2 separate regions of the Homo sapiens genome follow, and region 2 is linked to region 1. Evidence: fine-mapped expression QTL. A gene starts in region 1. The other region holds a variant in brackets. All regions are shown on one strand. Distances are between the middles of the regions.

The links. PIP is the estimated chance that this variant, and not a neighbour inherited with it, causes the effect. A credible set is the group of variants that fine-mapping cannot tell apart.
Region 2: its variant is the best candidate, but not a certain one, in a credible set for the expression of SGTA in whole blood (TOPMed, PIP 0.86).

What each region holds. Positions count from the first base shown.
Region 1 is chr19:2,780,539-2,785,899 of GRCh38, forward strand. SGTA (small glutamine rich tetratricopeptide repeat co-chaperone alpha) reads right to left here and starts at 2,735. Exons shown (of 12, transcript NM_003021.4): 1 at 2,695-2,735. It overlaps THOP1 (thimet oligopeptidase 1), which reads left to right and starts at 4,965. Exons shown (of 13, transcript NM_003249.5): 1 at 4,965-5,140. The coding sequence starts at 5,125. RefSeq lists enhancers at 1,501-1,600, 3,097-3,166 and silencers at 2,657-2,706, 4,652-4,761, 4,792-5,251.
Region 2 is chr19:2,753,772-2,759,132 of GRCh38, forward strand. SGTA (small glutamine rich tetratricopeptide repeat co-chaperone alpha) reads right to left here. Exons shown (of 12, transcript NM_003021.4): 10 at 3,922-4,011; 11 at 3,566-3,686; 12 at 944-2,162. The coding sequence ends at 3,572. Among named protein-coding and RNA genes, the nearest start is that of SLC39A3, 16 kb to the left of the region's middle. The variant G/A (reference allele first, on the strand shown) is at 2,170.

The sequences.
Region 1 (5,361 bases):
CAAGTGCTCACCTCCCCTGCCCAACTCCGCCAGGAGAGAATCTAGTATTCCTGCAAACTCCTATCTCTGGCCCAGCATCTCTTACAAGGCTTTCTATCTCTTGACAGACCCATCTTCCCTTTGAACGCCAGCATCTGGCAGCGTCTAAACCCTATGGACTCAGGAAAGCCTGCGATTGTTGAAAAATTCACAGCCACATGGTCACGTTCCTTGGGGAGGCCATTTCTCTCTGGGTCTCTGTTTCCACCTCAGTAAAAGAGAAAACGGGCCAGGTGCAGTGGGGCACGCCTGTAATCACAGAACTCTGGAGGCCAAGGTGGAGGATCACTTGAACCCAGGAGTTTGAGACCAGCCTGGGCAACACAGTGAAACCCCATCTCTAAAACAAAATACAAAAATTAGCTGGGTGTAGTAGTGCATACCTGTAGTCCCAGCTACTCAGGAGGCTGAGGTGGGAGGGCCTGAGCCTGGGAGGTCGAGGCTGCAGTGAGCAGAGATTGTGCCACTGCACTCCAGCCTGGGCGACAGAGCAAGACCCTATCTCAAACCACCCCTTTGTTCCTTCAGCCTGTACTGAGCACTTCCTACCAGAGCCACTGTTGGGTCTTGGCATAAAAAAGAAAAAATGTAGAATTGAGTAAGACGACAGCTCTCAAGGATCCTCCAATCTGGGGCAGAGCTCACCCGCATTTGGAATCATTCACCCTTCTAGGAAGATTTAATTATAAACCTCAGCTCAAATCCTTGGCGTGCTTACAGCTTTCCAGGCACCCAGTTAAGTGCTGTACATGCGATAGCTTATTTTAGGGGTCAGCAAAGGTTTTTCTGAAAAGGGCCAGATTGTCTTCAGCTCTGCAGGCGTTAAGTTCCCTATGGCAACTGTTCAACTGTGCCTTCTTAGCTCGAAATCAACTACAGGTAACGCATAAACCAAGGAGTGTGGCTGTGTTCCTACAAACCTTCATTCACAAAAACAGGCCAGAGGTGGATTTGGCCTTCTGGTCAGTTTGCTGATACCTTGCCTGGTTTAATCCTCACACACCTGAGGTGGTTACTATTATAATCCCCATTCCACAGAAGAAAAACTGAGGCTTGGAAAGATGGGGACCACCCGAGACCACCCAGCTCCGAGGATGAAAATGAGGAGTTCTGAACCCAGGCAGTCTGACTTGAGAAGCTAAACTCCAAAGTACCCATTTCTCTCTGCACGAAATTGGGTGCACACACAAAACTTTGTACACGATTTCCCGGGCCCACACAGTCCCAGCTGCCCATGCTGGTGAAGAATCACTGATCTAGGGTAGATTTTTTTTTTTTATTTTTGACAGGGTCTCGCTCTGTCGCCCAGGCTGGAGTGCAGTGGCATGATGTTGGGTCACTGCAACCTCTGCCTCCTGGGTTCAAGGGATTCTCCTGCCTCAGCCTCCTGAGTAGCTGGGATTACAGGTGCACACCACCATGCCCAGCTAATTTTCATATTTTCAGTAGAGACGGGGTTTCACCACGTTGGCTAGGCTGGTCTTGAACTCCTGACCTCAGGTCATCAGCCCGTATGGTAGGGTTTTTAAAGCATTATTGACATTTAAAGCTGGATCATTTTCTGGGGTGAGGCCGTCCTGGGTACTGCAGGGTGCCGAGCAGCAACCCTGGCCTCCACCAACTCCAAACCAGGGGGTCCCCCAAATCATGACAAGCACAAATGTCACCAAGAATCCCTGGGGCACAGAATTGTTCCTGGTTGAGAACCACTGGTCAAGGGAGGGAAAAGGCAGACAAAAGGAATAATCAGAGACAGAAACAAAAGAAAATGGGACAATCATTCAACCTCTGAAGGGCACACTACACTGCAATTTTCTGGCACCTAATAACAAAAACAGCTATTCTCAAGCCAGCTCTCTCTTATCAAGTTCCAGGCACCTGATCAAATAATTGAATGTGGGTTTATCCTCATAATGACCCTCCGAGGCATCTGCTTTTACAACTCGTTTGCGAAAGAAGGAACAGTTTGCTCAGAGAGGGAAGGCGACTCACCCAGGTTTACACAGCGGGTGGGAGGTGGTGGTGGACGGTCCTGAATCCCAGATTTCCCCCACCTCTAGCACGATATGCAGAAGAAGACTCTAAACATGATATAAGACGAACGCCTGCTAATTCTTTGGAGTTCTCAGATTCCGCTGGACCCTGCGGCTCTCCTTCTCCTAGGCAGGGACTTTTGAACAACGCCCGTTTTACAGAGGGGAAAACTGAGGCTCCGAGAAGCCAAGAGGCTGGGCAAGGTCACCCAGGTAGGGACTGGCGGCGCTGGAACCAGAGTTCCGACTTCAGTCCCCACAAACGGGGGTCCCTGAGTCACAGGGACGACGTTTCCAGGCGGTTAATAAGAGCGGAACGGCAGCGAACACCCAGCGAGCGCTCACTACATGCGGGGCGCCTTCCCCTCCCGCCGTCCTCGCCACCAGGCCGCGGACCAGCATTTCCAGGACCTGGGGCCTGGGGAAGGGAGATCAGGGCTCGAAGGGCCTGCCCGATGGCGCCCGGCCTCAGTTTCCCCTCCGCACCGCCTACTCACAGGACCCCGCGGGTCGCGGTGACCCTGGCCTCACGATCCCCAAACTCTTACGAGCTTTGGGGCCCCGTGGGCCCCGAGCCGCAGACCCCAGACCCACCAGGCTCAGCGCAGTGCCCCTCACTCACCTCTCAGGCGACCGATCCCCGACCCACCGACGGTTGCGCTTGCGCACCGCGGTGCCGCCCGGCCCCGGCCCCAGGGCGCGACGCCTGCGCAAAAGAAAGGCGCCCGGAGTTGCTTCCCTTCTGCACAGGCGCGTTAATGATGGAGGCGGGCGTGGAAGGAAGTGACGCAACGTAGAGGCGGGAACCAGCTGGTTGTTAGGGCAACTGACCTCTGCGACCTAATGGAGGCCGGAAATCGGGTCTGGTTTGCCCTCTAGAGCGGGAATGAAGCGGTGCACGGTGGAACAGTGGCTGACTCCAGCCGGTCGCCGAGCTGACCACGTGGTGCTGGGCCGGCCACGTGGTGCAGCCGCGTTTGGACACCTGGACTCCAGAGCGTCACAGCTGCGCAATGAATGGGAGTCAGTGTTACCCGCTTACTATCTTTGTTCATTTATTCACCCACCCATCTACTCACCCACAAATGCATTCTTTCATGCAGTGTGAGACGTTTGTGAGTATAGAGCCATTTGTAGACAGCAGGTGCCTAATATTCATTCAATATTTATTGCAAAGCAGCCATAAAAACCAGCAAAGTGTCTACTCTCATTATTTTGCATTGGGGTAGACGGACTATAAACTAATAAACTAGTACATAAATAGAGAAACAAATTTCACAGCAAACACTAAGAAAAAAAAAATGAAGGTAGTGTGATTGTCACTGGGAGCTAAGTCGCATGGGATGGGTAGGAAAGATCATCCTTTACATTTGGATTTCAAGGATAGGAAAGTCCAAACGGACCCCAGGCACAGGGAACAGCGAAAATGAACGCCGATGTAAAATTAATCTTGGTGTTGCTCAAGACATGTGATGAGACATTTCCAAGGACGACAGAAAACTGATCACCATCTAAGTTACAGTTGCCAGAAATGTTCTCCCAATTCATTTTCGTCCTACTCAAAATACATGCACGATTAATGGCGTGGATTATTTTAATTTCTTTTGCAGAAATAAAGGAGGTGAGGCCGGCCGTGGTGGCTCACGCCTGTAATCCCAGCACTTTGGGAGGCCAGGGGGCAGATCACTTGATGTCAGGAGTTCGAGACCAGCCTGGCCAACACGGTGAAACCCTGTATCTACTAAAAATGCAAAAATTAGCCGGGCGTGGTGCGGGCATTTGTAGTCCCAGCTACTCGGGACGCTGAGACAGGAGAATCGCTTGAACCCGAGAGGCAGAGGTTGCAGCGAGCCGAGATCGCGCCATTGCACTCCAGCCTGGGCGACTGAGCGAGACTCCCTCCAGCCCCTCCAAAGCAAAAGAAAACAAAACAAAAACAAAAAAAGGGAAGAAAGGAGGTCGGTTGTTTTGGTTTTTGCCAGTTTAATTGTAGTACATTGTTTTTTCTGGGTGCCCTAACAGTTCAAGACAGATGGTTCAAGATGTTTTTTGTTTTAACCCACAACACTGCATGTAGGTCAGGCTACTGCACTGTTCCACAACACCTGTTATTTGACATGAATCCGTTTACTTGCTTTTGTTTCTGACAAAAAAAAAAAAAAAAAAAAAAACTTGGCCCGGCGCGGTGGCTCACACCTGTAATCCCAGCACTTTGGGAGGCCGAGGCGGGCGGATCACGAGGTCAAGAGATCAAGACCATCCTGGCCAACATGGTGAAACCCCCTCTTTACTAAAAATACAAAAATTAGCCGGGGTGGGGGCTGGCGCCTGTAGTCCCAGCTCCTGGAAAGGCTGAGGCAGGAAAATTACTTGAACCAGGGAGGCGGAGGTTGCAGTGAGCCGAGATTGCTGCTACTGCACTCCAGCCTGGGCGACAGAGCGAGACTCCGTCTCAAAAACAACCAAAGCACCAAAACTTCTGGTTAATTTAATTGATTCGTCGGATTCAGATGCTGGAAAGTGGGCCTGGGATATACAGTAAGCGATCAATAATAACACTGGCCCAACACACAGCTATAAGAAGCGAGGCAAGTACACATTAACGCGGTAGCCTGAAGCCCAAGCGAAGTCTCAGCGCAATGAGCCGCGCAGAGGCTCAGAGGCGTCAGCGGCGTGCGCGGTTTCCAAGGAAACCGTCCGTCCTAGCCACCCCAGCGGCTCTGGAATGGTAGAGCAAGAGGCTCCGCCCACGCACCGCCGAGACCAATAACGGACCGGGAGGGTTACGGCGAGTGCGCAGAGGGCTCCAGCGCACTCCCGGCCCTCCTCCTTTAGCTGTGGGCGGGGCTCAGGGGCGCGTGCGTCCTGCCCTCCCTGTGCGCGCGCCGCCCCAGCATGCCCCGGGAGCGCGGGCGGCGGGCCCCTTGGTCCTCAGGCGGCCGTGGCGGCGGTGGCGGCGGTTGGGCCGAGGCAGGCGGCCTCAGTGGCCGAGGTGGCTGGACGCGTAGCAGGTGGAAGGAGGGAGGGAGCCGCAGGCGCAGACCCACCCGCCATGAAGCCCCCCGCAGGTACCGACTACCCCGCTCGCCGGACCCGGGCGTCCCCTGCACCCTCGCTCCTCCCGGGGTCGCGACTTGGGCCTAAGGCTGGAGCGAAGCGACCCCCGAGCCACCCTCGGCCGGGCTGGAGGGGCAGCGGGGGAGGTGGACGACCCTGCTCTCTCGTTTGCCGAATGAATGAACCAGCTTTTCCAGCGCTTCATTCATTCTGCAAAGTTGATGGCGCTTCC
Region 2 (5,361 bases), 27 kb before region 1:
TTGTATTTGTAGTAGAGATGGAGTTTCATCATGTTGGCCAGGCTGGTCTTGAACTCCTGACCTCAAGTGATCCACCCGCCTCAGCCTCCCAAAGTCCTGGGATGACAGGCTTGAGCCACCACACCTGGCCAAGGGAGCAGCTTCTATGTTCACAACAAAACTCTGTGCAGCACCCTAGGGTTGGGGCTGAGATGGGCCTGGAAGCTTTCTGGGCTCCTTCTTGCCTGGGACTCCCTCACTGACCCATTCTCTCAACTGGAGCCGTTGTGAAAGGGAGGTGCCTTTGGTTACAGAATACAGAATTTATGGAGTTACAGTATGCTAGAAAAGCAACAGACAAAGCCAGGTGCGGTGGCTCACGCCTGTAATCCCTGCACTTTGGAAGGCTGAGGCAAATCACCTGAGGTTGGGAGTTTGAGACCAGCCTGACCAACATGGAGAAACCTCGTCTCTACTACAAATACAAAAAATTAGCTGGGCGTGGTGGTGCATGCCTGTAATCCCAGCTACTTGGAAGGCTGACGCAGGAGAATCACTTGAACCCGGGAGGTGGAGGTTGAGGTGAGCCGAGATTGCGCCATTGCACTCCAGCCTGGGCATCTAGGGTGAAAGTCTCAAAAAAAAAAAAAAAGCAAAGCAAAGCAACAGACAATACGATCACTCTCTGCTGAGGACCGAGGCATCTCACCCCACCCTGGGGTGACCCTCTACACCGGGATGCAGCTGGGGACGGAGGCGGAGGGAAGGGAGACAGCAGAGGGTAGAGGCTGACTGTCCGAAACCTCCCATGACCCGTGACCCGTGACCCAAGAAGTGCGGCTCCGGCGTCGCGGGGATTCACTCACAAGCAGCCCAGCTGATCCACAAACTCCGCGTCGGGGGTTTTCTCGAGGTTTGGGGTTGGAGGGTATCGGTGGCGCCAAGGTCAACACGAAGACAGACAGAGGTCACAACGCCTATTTATTCCCCACACGTCACGCCCTGCACCCCGGGTGGGCTTGGCACACACCTCACCGCCATGAGCGGCTGCAGGGCCGCGGCGGCCCCCGTTCCTACTGCTACCTACGATACACGGTACTGCGCCTACCTCACAGACGGCCAGGAGCCAGGGAGCCCCAGGATGCTCCGACTGACAACCCTGCTGCTGGGACCACGGCGCCGTGGGCTCGTCTGCCACCCCCAGGCCTCAGGAACCCAGACAGGCTGCCTGCTGTCCGGCTCTCCGGCTGCTTTCCTGGTGGCTGTTTTAGGGCCAAGGTGGGTGGCACCTGAGGTGTCCCGTGGCCTCCACCCAGCACAGGAGGGGTAAGCTTCCCTGGGGGGCCCCGGGCCCATGAAACATCCAGGACAGAAGGACAGCAGGATGGGACACAGACAGAAACGGCCCAGCTGCCTTCCCTGTGCCCGGGGCTAAGGCGGCCGGGACAGAAGGTCATGATGTCGCCCCTGGCTCTCAGTCGCGAGGACCAGAAAATGAGGGTGGGAGGAGGGGAAACATGTCTGTCAACATGCCCAACTGGAGAAAAGTCACAGAAACTGGTCCTATGCACCCAGGACGGCTCCTGAGCCGCGGAGGCGTGGGGTGACCGCAGCCGTCTCTTAGGTGTCTGCCACTAAAGAGTTCCTCATGCAAACACACATGGCCCGCGGTGCCCAGGCCGCAGCTGGCAGTGAGCTCTTCCGAGCAGGCACAGGGCCGGGGTGGCCGGGAGGTCGACTCGGAAAGAGGCTTCTCACAGACGGGAGAGTTCCTGCAGACAGACCACGGGATGGGGGGCGGGGGCTGTAAAAGGCTTTGGAAGCCACACGATCCGCCACACGGCTGAACGTGAAACCTGCCACTTCTCTGAGAGCGGCCCGGGAGCACCCCAGGATTCTAGAAAACACTCAAGTGACCGAGCTTTCTGGGGGCTGGAAGGGAGGTCGCTGCTGGTCTGTGCTCAGCTTGCTGGCTCTCGTTTCAAGAAGGGTCTGGGGGCTGTAAGGGAGTTACAAAAAGGGAGTGGAGGAGGGCAGAGATAAAAGGGGAAAATCCATCTTGACATGCAGGTCCGAGGTCTCTCTCTTCCCCTCTCTCAGGCAGTCCAACAGGAGGAAGTGGCAGACAACCAGAAGGCTTCCTTCGGGTCGGCCAGGGAAGGACGCGGTCACACCGGGAGCAGCTGGAAG[G/A]GGACAGACATGAAGGCTGTCAGAGCGCAGGTGGGGACCAAGGCTGCACCACACACTCCAGGCAGCAGGAGAGGCCCAGAGTGGACAGCCAGGGGCCACAGCGGCTATTTCAACGAACGTCAGAGCCACAGCTGCACCAGAAGCGTTCCACACACTCGGGGCCACGTGTGGCTGGTGGCGCAGAGAACATCGCCATGACCTAGAAGGGTCTACAGTATGGTGGTACTTTGTGTATGAGGTTACGGTGGTAAAAAATCCACCTCAACTATTAAAAAAAGAAAAGGAAAAATAAATAAAAGCTTATTTAAAAAAAAAAGGGAAGACTGGAAGAAAAGGCGGCCAAAATATTAATGTTGGTGGCTCTGGGTGAGAAGATTAAGGTTGGGCTGAATGCACGGCTCACACTTTGGGAGGCCGAGGCGGGAGGATCGCTTGAGCCCAGGAGGTTGAGGCTGCAGTGAGACGTGACTGCACCACTGCCCTCCAGCCGGGGGGACAGAGCAGGACGGTCTCAAAAAAAAAAAAAAAAGATTAAGATTGTTCTTGCTGCTTTTTAACATTTTTGTATTTTAAATTTGTCTACAGTAATTATGGTTTAAAAATGAAAGAGAGTGTATATGAGGAGGGGACAACGACAAAATGAAGAGGCCACATGGGAGCAGAATGGAAACACCTCTGGGGAGGCCCGGAGCCTCCCGCCCCCAGGGAGCCGGCGTCTGCTGGAGACAGACAGGACTGAACTCAGGGGAGCCTCCCACCCCTGGGAAGCCGGTGTCTGCTGGAGACGGACAGGACTGAACTCAGGGGCCCCTGGGGAAGGAAACCAAGCCAGCCACGGGCCCCTGGAACCCATGGGGGACACTGAGTGTATTTTTAAACAACTGTAAGTGCAACACCTGCTCACAGTGAGAAAAGGACAAAAAATCCCTCACAAAATGCAGGCAGAACGCTCGGGCGCAGTCAAAGGCAGGTACCCGGCTTGTCCTTTCCACCACTCGATGACCTCGCCCCCACCCCCGAGGTGGCAGCCCCGACACTGCAGAAACAAAGAGCTTCTGCAGGCGGCCTTAGGCAGGGGGGACCCCAGACACCAGCCCTTCCAGGGAGCTGTGGCTCTCCCCTAATCTCCACCCAGCGCCGATCCACAGATGGGAAAGGAGTGGGGAGCAGGACTTGGTGGCCACCTGGAAAGGGGCCCAATGCCCAGAGATGCCCCCACCTGCCTGGGCGGTTCAGGGTGATCTTCTGAGCTGGATGCACCCAGGACTCGCTGTCCAGTGTCCAGACAGGCTCCACAGCCCCCGGGCGTCACTCCTGCTGGCTGCCCTCACTGCCAGGCACTCACGTGGTGTCACTCCTGCTGGCCACCCCCCAGCCCCCGGCCCCATGCACTCACGCAGCGTCACTCCTGCTGGTCGTCGTTGCTGGCGCTGGGCGTCCGACTCCGGATCTGGCTCCTGAGCTGCTCTATCAACTCTGGGTTCTGCTGCTGCATCTGCTGGGCAAACTGCTGGCCCCTGCGGGGAAGGGCACATGGGGCTCAGCCAGGGCCAGGAGGCTGCCTGCTGCCTCCGTCCATCCCCAGCTGACCCCTCGGGCCCTCCACCCCAAAGACAGGCCTGACCCCTCGCTGGAGGACGCTGGGCCCTTCGGAGCAGGGGACGCAGCACTTTCGCTCTCCTCCTTCCCTTCCGCCTGCGAGCCCTGCCCGCCGCCCACGTCCTCCGTCCTCTTGGAAGCAGTTCCACTCACGCCTGGATGAGGCTGGCCAGGTCGTTCTGCGAGGGGCTGGTGCCGGGAGTTCCCAAGGGGTTGTTGCCACCCGAAATCATGCCGGACATGCTGCAGGAGAGAGCGCGTGACTCGCAGCCGGGACAGCCTGACCGCCACCCCCACTGCAGGCCCTCGCAGTGGCCCGGGAGAGAATCCCTCTCAGCCCTTCACCTTCCCCTGCAGGAGAGGATTCTCTCTCACCACCTGGTGGGCCTCCAGGGCCCAAACCCACCCTGTGACTTTCACCTGCTTTCCCAGAACACCCCTCTTTCTTTGGCCTAAAGAGCGTAGTTCTCAGCCAGGGGGTGATCCTGCCCCCAGAGGACCCCTGCAATGGCAGCGGACATTTGCAACAGCCATGATTGGGTTACGCCAAGACAGGGGCAGGGGGTGCTCCTGGCATGGAGTGGATGGAGGCTAGAGACAGTGCTCAGCACCCTGCAGTGCCCAGGACGGCCCTGCTCCAGAAACTGGTCCAGCTCAAATGGCCACGGTGCTGTGGCTGGGAAACCATGCTTTAAGATTTGACCGTGGGCCAGCCGCGGTGGCTCACACCTGTCATCCCTGCACTTTGGGAGGCTGAGGCGGGTGGATCACCTGAGGTCAGGAGTTCAAGACCAGCCTGGCCAACATGGTGAAACCCCATCTCTACTAAAAATGCAAAAATCAGCCGGGCATGGTGGTGGATGCCTGTAATTCCAGCTACTTGGGAAGACCCACTTGATCCCGGGAGGCAGAGGTTGCAGTGAGCCAAGATTCTGCCACTGCACTCCAGCCTGGGTGACAGAGCAAGATTCTGTCTCAAAAAAAAAAAAAGGAGAAAGAAAAAAAGATTTCACCATGAAAACAGGTGAGCAGCTCCCCAGTGCGCACAGCGCTTACTGGGGAGTGACCCTATGAGCCAGCGAGTGCACTCAGAAGTTTATATCCAAGAGAAACGAAAACAGGATTCACACAGACGATTGCACACCCGTGCTCAAGCAGCACCGTTCACAACAGACAAAAGGTAGAAACAGCCCAAATGTCCATGGATAGATGTGTGGATCAGCACAGCGTGGTCCCTCCACACTGGAATATTACTCAGCCATGAAAAGGAGCGAGGCCCTGACCCAGGCCCCAGCACACATGCACCTTGAGGACGTCACGCTCAGTGAGAGACGCCAGACACCAAAGTTCACGCAGTGTGTGATCCCATTTCTACGAAATGTCCAGGACAGGCCCATCCACAGAGACAGGAAGGGGATGCGTGGTTGTCAGGGGATAGGAGAGGGGTTGGGGAGTGACAGCTGAGGGGGAAGGGGCTTCTTTCGGAGGTGATGAAGATGGGTTGGTGCTCAATGGTGGTGACAGTTGCATGACAGTGTGATGGTGGTGACAGTTGCATGACAGTGTGATAGTGGTGACAGTTGCATGACAGTG